Linked DNA regions of Homo sapiens: region 1 is linked to region 2. Evidence: fine-mapped expression QTL. Tissue or cell type: prefrontal cortex. Region 2 holds a variant in brackets; the other region holds the start of a gene. All regions are shown on one strand. Distances are between the middles of the regions. Region 1 holds the start of C14orf180 (chromosome 14 open reading frame 180). Region 2 holds the start of TMEM179 (transmembrane protein 179).

Evidence for each region. PIP is the estimated chance that this variant, and not a neighbour inherited with it, causes the effect. A credible set is the group of variants that fine-mapping cannot tell apart.
Region 1: it holds the start of C14orf180, and the variant in region 2 is the best candidate, but not a certain one, in a credible set for the expression of C14orf180 in prefrontal cortex (BrainSeq, PIP 0.88).

What each region holds. Positions count from the first base shown.
Region 1 is chr14:104,576,864-104,582,226 of GRCh38, forward strand. C14orf180 (chromosome 14 open reading frame 180) reads left to right here and starts at 2,901. Exons shown (of 5, transcript NM_001008404.3): 1 at 2,901-3,140.
Region 2 is chr14:104,602,333-104,607,695 of GRCh38, forward strand. It overlaps TMEM179 (transmembrane protein 179), which reads right to left and starts at 2,440. Exons shown (of 4, transcript NM_001286389.2): 1 at 2,105-2,440. The coding sequence starts at 2,409. The variant G/C (reference allele first, on the strand shown) is at 3,146.

The DNA of each region.
Region 1 (5,363 bases), 25 kb before region 2:
CAGAGGGAGCTGGGCTCAGGACAGCCTCAGCTGGGTGTTCCCACTACAGCAGAGAGAGCTGGGCTCAGGACAGCCTCAGCTGGGTGTTTTCACTGCCACAGAGGGAGCTGGGCTCAGGACAGCCTCAGCTGGGCATTCCCACTGCAGCAGAGAGAGCTGGGCTCAGGACAGCCTCAGCTGGGCGTTTTCACTACCACAGAGGGAGCTGGGCTCAGGACAGCCTCAGCTGACAGGGGTGCAGCCCTGAGCCCCGGAGACGCCTGGAGAACCTTTGGACCCATTTCCACCACAAGCCCTGGTGCTGCAGTCGGCCAGCCTGCACGAATTTCCCCCCGGGCTGTATGCCAGACAGGGGAAGGGCCAGCCTCCAGGCCTCTGCGCAAGAGGGCCACGGCCAACTCCCACCCCCTGGGCCAACGCTGGCCTCTCTTGTGCCTGGGGTCCTTCTGCTTCAACCAGCTGTGGACCCCACCCCCATCTCCCCCACCCACCGGCCCTTTCTTCTCTGGCCCAGGTCAGCCTAGGGCCTCCACACCCTCCAGCCCCACCCCCGACCCTGCCTGGAGCCATGTATGAGGCCATGCTGAGGCCCAGGGCTCTCCGCACTCCAGCCAGACCATGGTCCAGGGAGAGCTGGGAGTCTAGGCCAGCACCACGTGGCCATGACCAGAGTAGCCACAATCTCCAGCCCCTGCAGCCTCCACTCCCACGTGCCGCCCTACTCCACCCCGGCCACCTTCCAGGACCACCCCAAGGAAACAGCCCAGCCCAGCCAGCTCGCTGGACTTTCCCAGCGCTCAGGAGTGCCCAGCCACTGGACATGCTCCGCCCTCCCGCTGAATGACAGCTGGCCTTAGTTGCTGTGTTCCCGGGGCACTGCTCAGGGTGGGTGCACCACAAAGATCTGGGGAGGGTGGGGCATCCGATCATTCCCAGCTCCCGGGGAGAGATGAGGGTGTGGCGGAGGTCACCTGGCTGAACAGTGACAGAGCTGGGCCCAAACCTGGGCACCACGTCATTGGCACCACTGCCCGTGGGCACATGTGCCCACCTGCCGGCTGCAGGCAGGCCTGACACAACTGGGCTCTTCCCTGGCACTGCCTGGCACAGGCACTGGGGACCCTCCGCGGACCCGGCAGCTCAGCACTCCCCTGGGCCAGCCTTATCTTGCCCTGCAGAGCCCAGGCTGGAGTGAGGCGCAATGGACGGAGGCGAGGAGGGTGCAGCCGAGCCCTATCAGATACGGCCGGAAATATGACCCCGCTGGGACCTGAGCCCTGAGCCGAGCCATCAGCTCACTAATAAATTACCCAGAGCGAATGTCCACAGGGTCAGCCCGCATCGCCTTTCCAGGGAGCACAGAGAGGGGGCGGCACCCAAGGTCTGTGGGCTGACCGTTCCCTCCCCTCTGTCAATGAGAAGGGTCAGGAAGGAGTTGTCCCGGAGCCCCCCGACCTCGGGCAGTGCAGCCTGACCTCTGAAATCTGGGAGGAGCAGCTCCAGCCCTGGGAAGCCAAGGATAAGCGCCCAGATTGGGCACAGGCGGGAGAGGGTCTTGTCTGGCTACAGGACCTCACTCTTCCCAGGAAGCCAGACTGCCAGCAGGACCACCCAGCCTTCCTCAGTGCTCTCCCTGGAACAAGCGTCAGCGAGCCAAGGCCCTCCTGCCAATCTGGCCCACCCCGTTTGTGTAGACACAGAGCGCACTGTGTGCCATATGGCCCTGTAAGAGAAAAGTTTGCTCCCCCATGCCCTGTACTGAAGACGGCAGTGAGGGGAGGGCCGGTCTGCTGAACCCCATCCCAGTGGCTGCGTTGCTCATGCTCTGACGGTGGGTTCCAGGACTCTGTGTCCATGCAGCCCCACGGCTGGCCCTGAGCAGTCACCCTCTGTGCACACTGTCCCCCAGCCTGGCACACCCTGGGCTCCCAGGGGTCCTGTAGCTTTACCCAAGGGAGATGCACCCCCATTCCTAATGGAGAAACACGGGTCTCTCCACACCTCCTCCAGCAGTCCCCTGAAACAGGTCAAAGCCCCACAAACCAGGCAGGGGTCTGCCCACATGTGGTGGTGCCCTGCGCCAGTGATGCCCTCACCAGCCTCTTTCAGACCTGCCTTTACATGCACCAGCAGACGGGGGGGCTGGCGAGGACGGGCCACCAAGCCTGAGCCAGGCTACCACCTCCGGGCTGTGTGACTCTGGACAGGGTGCCTCAACTCTCTGAGCTGCACTTTCACCTACAAATGAGGGGCAGACTCAGCAGCGCCAGGCAGGGCAGTTGGACGCCCACCCAGGACAGACCCTGAGAAAGGCTGATCCCTCACCCCTGCCATCGCTCACTGACCCATACATTGCCCCTTCCTGCCAGGGCAATATCGAGGGTCGGCCAGTGTGCCCCAAAACGGCAGCTTGGGACCCATTCTTTGCCTCTCCCTCTGGCAACCCCAGGTCAGGACTCACAGGGGCACAGGGGCCTGGGGCAGGGCGGGCACTCTCGCCACCACGGAGGCCCCATGCTGGGTCAGGGTCTTATTGGAGGCTGGACTCTGTGATCACCTCACCTCCCGCAGCCCCACAGTGCCCTCCCTCTCCCACTCTGCCCCGAATTCCAATCCATAGGTTTTTCCAAGAGCTGCACAGCTCTGGAATTGACCTGGGAGGGGGCACATTTGGGCCGGGAGGGGTAGGAACAGCAGCAAACTCTGGTCTTATCTGAAATCATGGTCTGTTGTCCACCGGGGGCCTGGGAAACAGCCACCCCCTTCTGCTCCGGGGCCAGCGGCCTGTCCTCGGGTTCACTGCTATTTCTGCCAAAGGGGAGAGGTAATTATAGCCTGGCCGCTGCCAGCTGGCCCAGCTTTGCGATCCAGCAGAGAGGGCTGGAGACGGGACGAAGGCCACAACAGACCCGGCCCTGCCAGCGGGCGGTGGCGCCTCCAGATCAGAGCCCTCGGGAAGGAGGCCTGGGCGGGCCTGGCCCGTTCACCTGTGTGCCCTGCAGTTCTGCCCGAGGCTCAACTCTCAAGGGCCTGGGAGGGGTGCTGCCGGCCAAGAGGGTCCAGGACCTCACTGGACTGTGCCCCACAGGGAGATCCCGAAGAGCCTGTTTCTGTCCCTCGGGGAGCCAGGAGGGAACCAGGTGAGTTCCAGCCCCAGGGAGAGGGGGCTCACTTCCTGCTTGGGTATGAAGATGCCAGAGCGGAGAGATTGCCAAAGGCAGGTGCAGGTGGGGAACCTGCCCCAGCTGGGCAGCAGGTGTGGGCAGAGACTGGGCAGAGCGGAGAGATTGCCAAAGGCAGGTGCAGGTGGGGAACCTGCCCCAGCTGGGCAGCAGGTGTGGGCAGAGACTGGGCAGAGCACACACTGATGATCCTGAGTGACCTGAACAAGCTCCAGAGTGGCCACCCTTCCCCCTTCTCCTGGGACTGATGGTTTCCCTAAAACGGAGACAGTCCCAGGCCGGCCCTGTGTCCACACTGAGGCCAGGCCGCCTCTGGGGGAAGCAGGGAACACGGCCACTTCAAACTTAGCAGCGGGGGTGCTCCTGGCCACACAGGAGCTTCCAAAGGGCACCTGATGTTGCGCGAAACAGCCTGGGCAGTGGGAGAAGGGGCTGCACTCTCAGGGGAATGCAGGCAGCCGTGCCAGGCATGAACCCAGCCAGCCTTCCCTGAAGGGCCTTGGTGGGGGGCATCCTCCGAGGGCAAGTCTACGCAGGCCCAGCCTAGCAGGAATGGATTCGTTACTCCAGTAACTGAAGCCTAGTTCTCAGTGTTTGGGAATCCCTGAGAACTGGCTCTTTTCTGAGCCGTCAGTCAGAAGGAATCCCTGTCCTGCCCTGTGTGGCCATGGGACCCCCACCCAGCACTGGACGCCACGCCATTTCTTGGGCACTACTGAGCTTTGCAGTGCCCTGGACAGTTGGCAAACAGCCCCCATTCCACATATGGGAGGAAGGGCCTGGGGGGGTCCCCCGCCCTGTCTGTCTGGAGCTCTCGAGGCCTAGGGTGGCCCCTGCACCCAGCAGATGAGCAGCCATCACCCGGTACTGCTGCTACCTCGAGCCCTAACTGCACCTCGGGATGTGAGGGCCCATCTAGGCATGGAGAGGGGCCTCAGGGGGCCACCAGGCAGCTCCTGCTCCTGTTCCTACCTGGTAGGGCCTGCAGGCACCTGAGCAAGCCCAGTGGGCGGTCAGCCCAGCCAGGGGCCTCCCCACAAGTTCTCCCTCTTACTTAAGTCGAGAACGCATGTTGTCTGGGGAGCTGCCAGCGTGGTTCCAGTGGTGAGCGTTGGGCTGGGAGCCAAGGCTTTTCCCAGGAGCCCAGCCACCCCGCCTGGCTGTGTTCTGCCTCCGCCCTGCAGAGGAAAGGCCAGCGAGGCAGTGTCCATGGTCCCAGTCTTCTTCCACCGGAAGAAGGCACAACCTGCATCTGCAGCCCCAGGGCCATTGGGTTAGGCCTGTGGCCAAACTACTAAGGTGCTGGGAGACTGAGGAGGCCCAGCTCCTCCTGGGGCCACCAAGCCCGTGGTTGACGGCCTCCCCATGGACCGGGCTGTCCCGAGAGCAGCAAGTCAGCCGGGGCCCTCAGGGCCGCTGAGGCCACTGCTCAGTGTCGCCGTAATGGAAACTTCTCAGCTGGTTGTGAGCCGCAACAGCTCTGGTTCACACCCTGCGACAGCGAGGCTGTGACCGCCAGTGGATCTCGGGGCTGATCAGGCCTGAGCCACCCCGGAGGTACAGCACCAGCAGGAGCCCAGGTGGGCAGGGGCAGAGAGAGAGAGAGAGAGAGAGAGAGAGTATGTATGTGTGTGTGTGTAAGTGGTGGGGGTGGGGGCTGTGAGTCTCCAGCTTCTCCCAGGGAGGTCTCTGGCTTCCCAGGAGCCTGGCCCCCTGTCTCCAGCTCCCAAGTGAGTTGCCCTGGGGGAGGCTGCACCTGGAACAGGGAAACAGGGAGCCTGGCCCCAGCCTGCACTCGCTCAGGCCCCGGGACCCTCTGCCCCTGGAAGGCTGTGAGGCTGCCGTGTGAATGGGTGCAGTGCCAGGCGAGGGGTGAGCCGGGAGTGTGGGGCCGCACGCTCAGAGCCGAGGAAGGGCAGTGCCAGGCGAGGGGTGAGCCGGGAGTGTGGGGCCGCACGCTCAGAGCCGAGGAAGGACCTCCCATGTGGGGTGGGTGGGATGTCAGGATTTCTCACGAGCCAGCTGCTGCATGGGGGGCACTGCCCGCCCCGAGGAACCCTCAGGGAGGACAGAGAAACATCAGGAGGTGGGCTGTGGGCAAAAGGGCGGGCGGCACGGGCCAGGCAGAGGCAGCAGCCTGGGAGGAGGCGGGAAGCCAGCGGGCGGCGTCCTGGAGGACGG
Region 2 (5,363 bases):
TCTAGAGAGCCACCCTCTGTCAGCCCCAGCTGGACCACAGGCACCCTGAGGGACACCCAGGAGGTGAAGAAGTGCGTGAGCGATGAACCAACTGTGGCCCCACCTGGCCTGCACCCTCCACCCTCAGCTTCCCAGACTAAAGGGACCTCAAGCGTTGGGAGGCTGACCCTACTCGCTGGCTGTCCCACTCCCTCTTCACACCTGTCTCATTCAGGGAGGCTTCCACCTGCCTGCCCTGCATGCACAGCATGGACTGGGCAACTCTTGGGTTTGGCAACATGGGTGCAGATGACGTCTCAAGCCTCTTCTTGGGACACCAGCCCTGGAGTGGGCTGAGGGAAGGAGGACGGCTGCAAATGGGCAGGACACCACCCTGCGCCCGGCCTGACCCCACCTTGAGCAGGGCTCCAGCCACACAATTTGGGCCCATGGCCCCACAGTACCTGGGTCCTCCCAGGCTGACAGCCAGCTTTCTACTGACCCCCATCCAGAACCTTAGTGTCGTGGGTTGAATGGTGTCCCCCGAAAGATATGCCCAAGTCCCACCCCTGGTACCCGTGACTGTGACTTTGTTTGGAAATAGCATCTTTGCAGGTGTAATTAAGCTCTGGATCTCAGGATATCTCCCTGAGTTTAGAGTGGGCCCTGAATCCAGTGACTGGTGTCCCTGTAAAAAGAGGGAGGACAGAGCAGAGCAAAGGCGCCCTGTGAGGACAGCGGCAGAGGGTGGTGGGACAAGTGGGTTTCAGTCCAGTTGGTGCAACTGTGCTGCAGCAGCCCCAGGGCGCTCCTACCCACAGGCGCTGGGATTCTCATTCCTCCTCCAGAGTTTGCAGCCCCACTCAGCATAGCCCTGGCTCCCTCCCTTCTCCCTGAAGCCCCTCTTCTTCCCCTCTCTGGCCCCTCTCTCAGCCAAAACCAAGCGGTGGGCTCACAGCGGGGGCAACAGGAGGGCTTCCCCACTCCTGCCGCCCACACCCCTCTGAGCCCTTCTCATCTCCCACCTGCGTGCAGGAAGTGAAAACCTACAACAAAGGATGGGGGTGAGGGCAGAGTTTGGGAGGAGCCTGGGTTTCATGAGTGCTCTCCCGGAACCTCTACAGGATCTCGGGCTGCTCCTGGGCACAGCAGGCCTCAGCCAGGGGAGTGGGAGGGCCCACAGAGGGCACCCACAGAGGGAGTGGGTGGGTTCACAGAGGGAGTGGGTGGGCTCACAGAGGGGGTGGGTGGGCTCACAGAGGGGGTGGGTGGGTTCACAGAGGGGGTGGGTGGATTCACAGAGGTGGTAGATGGGCTCACAGAGGGCACCCACAGAGGGAGAGGGTGGGTTCACAGAGGGAGTGGGTGGGCTCACAGAGGGAGTGGGAGGGTTCACAGAGAGCACCTGCAGAGGGAGTGGGTGGGCCCCCAGAGGGCCCCCAGGGTGCCACTGGCTAAGGGTGTCACCGCACCCCAGGTGAACCAGGTTGTATGGGCTCCAGTATCTAGCCGGAGCAGGAAAGAGAAAGAGGAAAATGCAGGCCAGGAGGAGGAAGGCGCTGAGCCCACAAGGCACAGCCCTCGCCCTGCAGTCTCTCTCCAGCTCCCCATCCAAGGCCTGAGCTCGAGGTGGGCCTGGGTGGCTCCCCTCCAGACAGCCATCTGCCGTCCCTTTCCCGGGGCGATGGTGCCGGGTGGGGCTCCCCAGTTCGCCTTGTCACTGGGACCTGGAGAGCTCAGTGCAAGCCCTAGACCGGGCTGGGAGTTGTCGCCGGTCCTGGCGAGTGTGGCCCGGCTGAGCCCGCCCAGGAAGGTCCAGGCCTGCTGGGTGATGACAGTGCAACATCTGCAACCCAAGGGAGCAGATGCCCGGAAGCGGGAGGTGATGCGCAGCTGGGGAGGGGAGGCACTGGCCTTGTACGCAGGACCGGTGGTCGTCATGGTCCCTGGATGTGTGTGTAGACAAAGGGCGGTCTGAGTGGAGGGGGTGAGGGCGGATTGTTGACATTTGCGGGCCTCGGAGCTGCCTGAGAGACGGAGGGACTCGCGCGCCTCCCCGGGGAGGTGGGTCTGGGGGCGCTGGGGGCATGGAAGGGGCGCCGCGCCGGGAGCGGCCCCCACTTACCCCTCGTGTCCCTTGCAGAGGAAGAAGAGCGTGCGCCAGGCGTGCGCGGCGGCCAGCAGCAGAGACAGGAGGCTGGCGAGCAGGCTGAAGCGGCAGGCGGCCGGCGGGCCCCACTCCTGCACCGTGAAGCGCTCGCGCTCCTGCACCGTGAGGTTGGCGCTCAGCCACATGCCCTCGGTGAAGAGCAGGCAGCGGCCGCGGAAGTCGTGGCCGTTCTCGGACAGCGGGACCACCACCACGAAGCTGAACAGGAAGGCCAAGAAGTAGCAGGCGCACTGAGCGAAAAGGAAATTGTTGAGCGCCATGGCCGGCCCGGGCGAGAGCGGCGGCGGGAAGGCCGCGGGAGGCTGCGCCGGGCGGGGAGGCCGCGGGAGGCTGCGCAGTGGCGGCGCCGGCAGGTCCCGCGCGCCCCTCCCGGGACGCGTGCGCATCGGCCGAGCGCGGGAAGCGCCTGCGGTCAGCACCGCGGACAGCTCCTGGTGCGCGCGGGCCAGGAGCCCGGGGTCCAGGGGCCAGAGAAGGGCGGCCTGCGGGAGATGCGGGAATTTTACCAGGTCGGCCTGGAGGGACCGACCCTGTGCCGCTAAAGACTTCGGGAGCCACCTGTACGGGCCTCACACAGGCCGACTCTGGGTCGTCAGTTCCTCATCAGCTCGAACGAAAGGAGACCAGGAGAGAGAGGGCGGGGCGGGGGGTGTTGGAGGACACCCCCAAGGTGCTCATAGTGAGGTGTAGGAGTGCGGTTTGCAGTCCAGGCTGAAGTGATTCCTTTGCGGGGGTCCCGAAATGCAATGTATGAGGGGAGGGGCCAGATCGTGGAGGAGTCGGGGTCCAAGGGACTGGGACAGAGGTCATCCTCGAAGAGATGGGGAGGGTGAGGCCAGGTGTGGGCAGGAGGGGGTGGACCGGGAGCTTCTGCAGCGCCAGCCCTCCGCGGGGACGTGTGTTACACTGCCTGACATGGGCAGGACCCTGGAGCTGCATTTGTAAGATAAATAATGGGTGTCCCGAGCGCCTCATTAAGACATCTTTGCTGAGATG[G/C]AAATCGCTGAGGCATTAATTAATAGAATTAATGCCTTTTCTAGTTGCCTTTAAGACTAAGTCACCTTTAGTCCAATTCCCAGAGTGAGGAAGCCTTAACATTGCTCCTCCTGGTTTAAAATTCCATCAGCATTTTTGTTGCAAGCATTAAAAAATATTTTTGTTTTATTGACTAAGTAATATATGCTCATTTCTTAAGTCAAGTAATAGAGATATGTATACAATAAAATAGAAAGCCTTCTCCTCATCCCCCTCCCCTACCCCATCACACTACCAGGGGTGACCACTTCAATAGCCTGGCATCTATTTTTCTAGACATTTTGCTAAGCACATAAGCACACACACAGAATTAACAAAAATGCTTCATACCATACATAGTTTTCTGAAGGCTGATTCTTTTATTCAACAAAATGTCAAGGAGATTATTCCCTGCCTACACATACACCTATTTTGTTCTTTTTAATAACTGCATAAGACTCCATTATAATGATGATTCCACAATCTGCATAACTATTCCTCTTAAGGTGGATGTTTTGTGTCTCCAGTTTTTGCTGTCTCAAATGCTGTCATGTGAACATTCTTGTACACATATGTTTGCGTTCTTGCACAGGCATTTTTATAAGAGAAATTCTTAGAAGAGGAATTGCTGGGTCATGGGGTATGCACATTTAAAATGTTGACAGAAATTGCCAAACCGGCTTTAAAAATGTTGTTCAGCCGGGCGCGGTGGCTCACGCCTGTAATCTCAGCACTTTGGGAGGGCGAGGCGGGTGGATCACGAGGTCAGGAGATCGAGACCATCCTGGCTAACATGGTGAAACCCCGTCTCTACTAAAAATACAAAAAAATCAGCCGGGTGTGGTGGCGGGTGCCTGTAGTCCCAGCTACTCGGGAGGGCGAGACATGAGAATCGCTTGAACCTGGGAGGCAGAGGTTGCAGTGAGCCGAGATCACGCCACTACACTCCAGCTTGGGCGACAGAGCGAGACTTGGTCTCAAAAAAAATAAAAATAAAAATAAAAAAATTAAAATGTTGTTCAAATTTACCCTCACATCTGGGTTGTAGACCCCTCCCCTCGCTGGCTGAGAAACAGCAGTTGTAGGCAAATCCTGCCAGTTTCCACAGAATGCGCTCATTGCTGTGTGAACTTGGACTTGCTTTGGCATCATGAGGCTGAGCATATCTTCTTACGCTTGCCACCATTTGCAACTTCTTCTCTTCTGTGGATTGCATTTCATTTTGCAGTCACTTTAAAGTCGGGCCTTGAAGGCCAGCCACGAGGTCAGCAACGGCCACTCTTCTCTTGGAGAATCCACTCAGGGTTTTTACCACTCTTGGAGTATCCCCAATTCTCCCCAAAGGGAGCTCACTCAGGAAATTCACCCCCTCCCCTAACTTGGGCAAGAGTGGAAGTTCCATCCACTCATTATCCAGCAGTTGGACCAATTTGAACACATCTGGGGGTGTTACACTTCCAGACTCTGGCCAACATGAAGGAGACCATGACAACTGACAGGGAACCGCCAGCACTGGAAACCGCAGACTAGGCTGGAAAGATGATTAAATATCTGCCATTTTCAAAGGTCAAAGGTGCGAGACTCTGGCATGTCTGTGATTAGTTCCACTTACCTTCAAAAATCAAAGACTTATCTTGTTTGTATTAGTCAGGGTTCTCCAGAGAAACAGAACCAATAAGATGGAGAAAGAGAGAAAGAGAGAGATTTATTTTAAAGAACTGGCTCATGTGATTTTGGAGACTGGTAAGTCTCGAATCTGCAGGGTGGGCCAGCAGGCTGGAGACCCAGGAAAAGTCAATGTTGTGGTTCAATGTCGTGGCTGCAGAACTCCCTCTTACTGGTGGGGGGAGGGGGATTGGGAGGTGGGGTCAGTCTTTGGTTCTATTCAGGCCTTCAACTGGTTGGATGAGGTCACTGCTATAGTTTGAATGTTTGTCTCTTCTGAAATTCATGTAGAAACTTAATCCCCAATGTGACAGTGGGGCCTTTAGTAGGTGATTTGGTCCTGTCCTTATGAATAGATGAATTCTTTTCATGGATTAGTGGTCTCATGGATTAATGGGTTGCCCCAGGACTGGGACTGATGGCTTTATAACAAGAGGAAGAGAGATGAGCCGGCACACTCAGCCTCCCCACCATGGATGCCCTGCACCACCTTGGGACTCTGCAGGGAGTTTCCACCAGCAAGAAGGCCCTCACC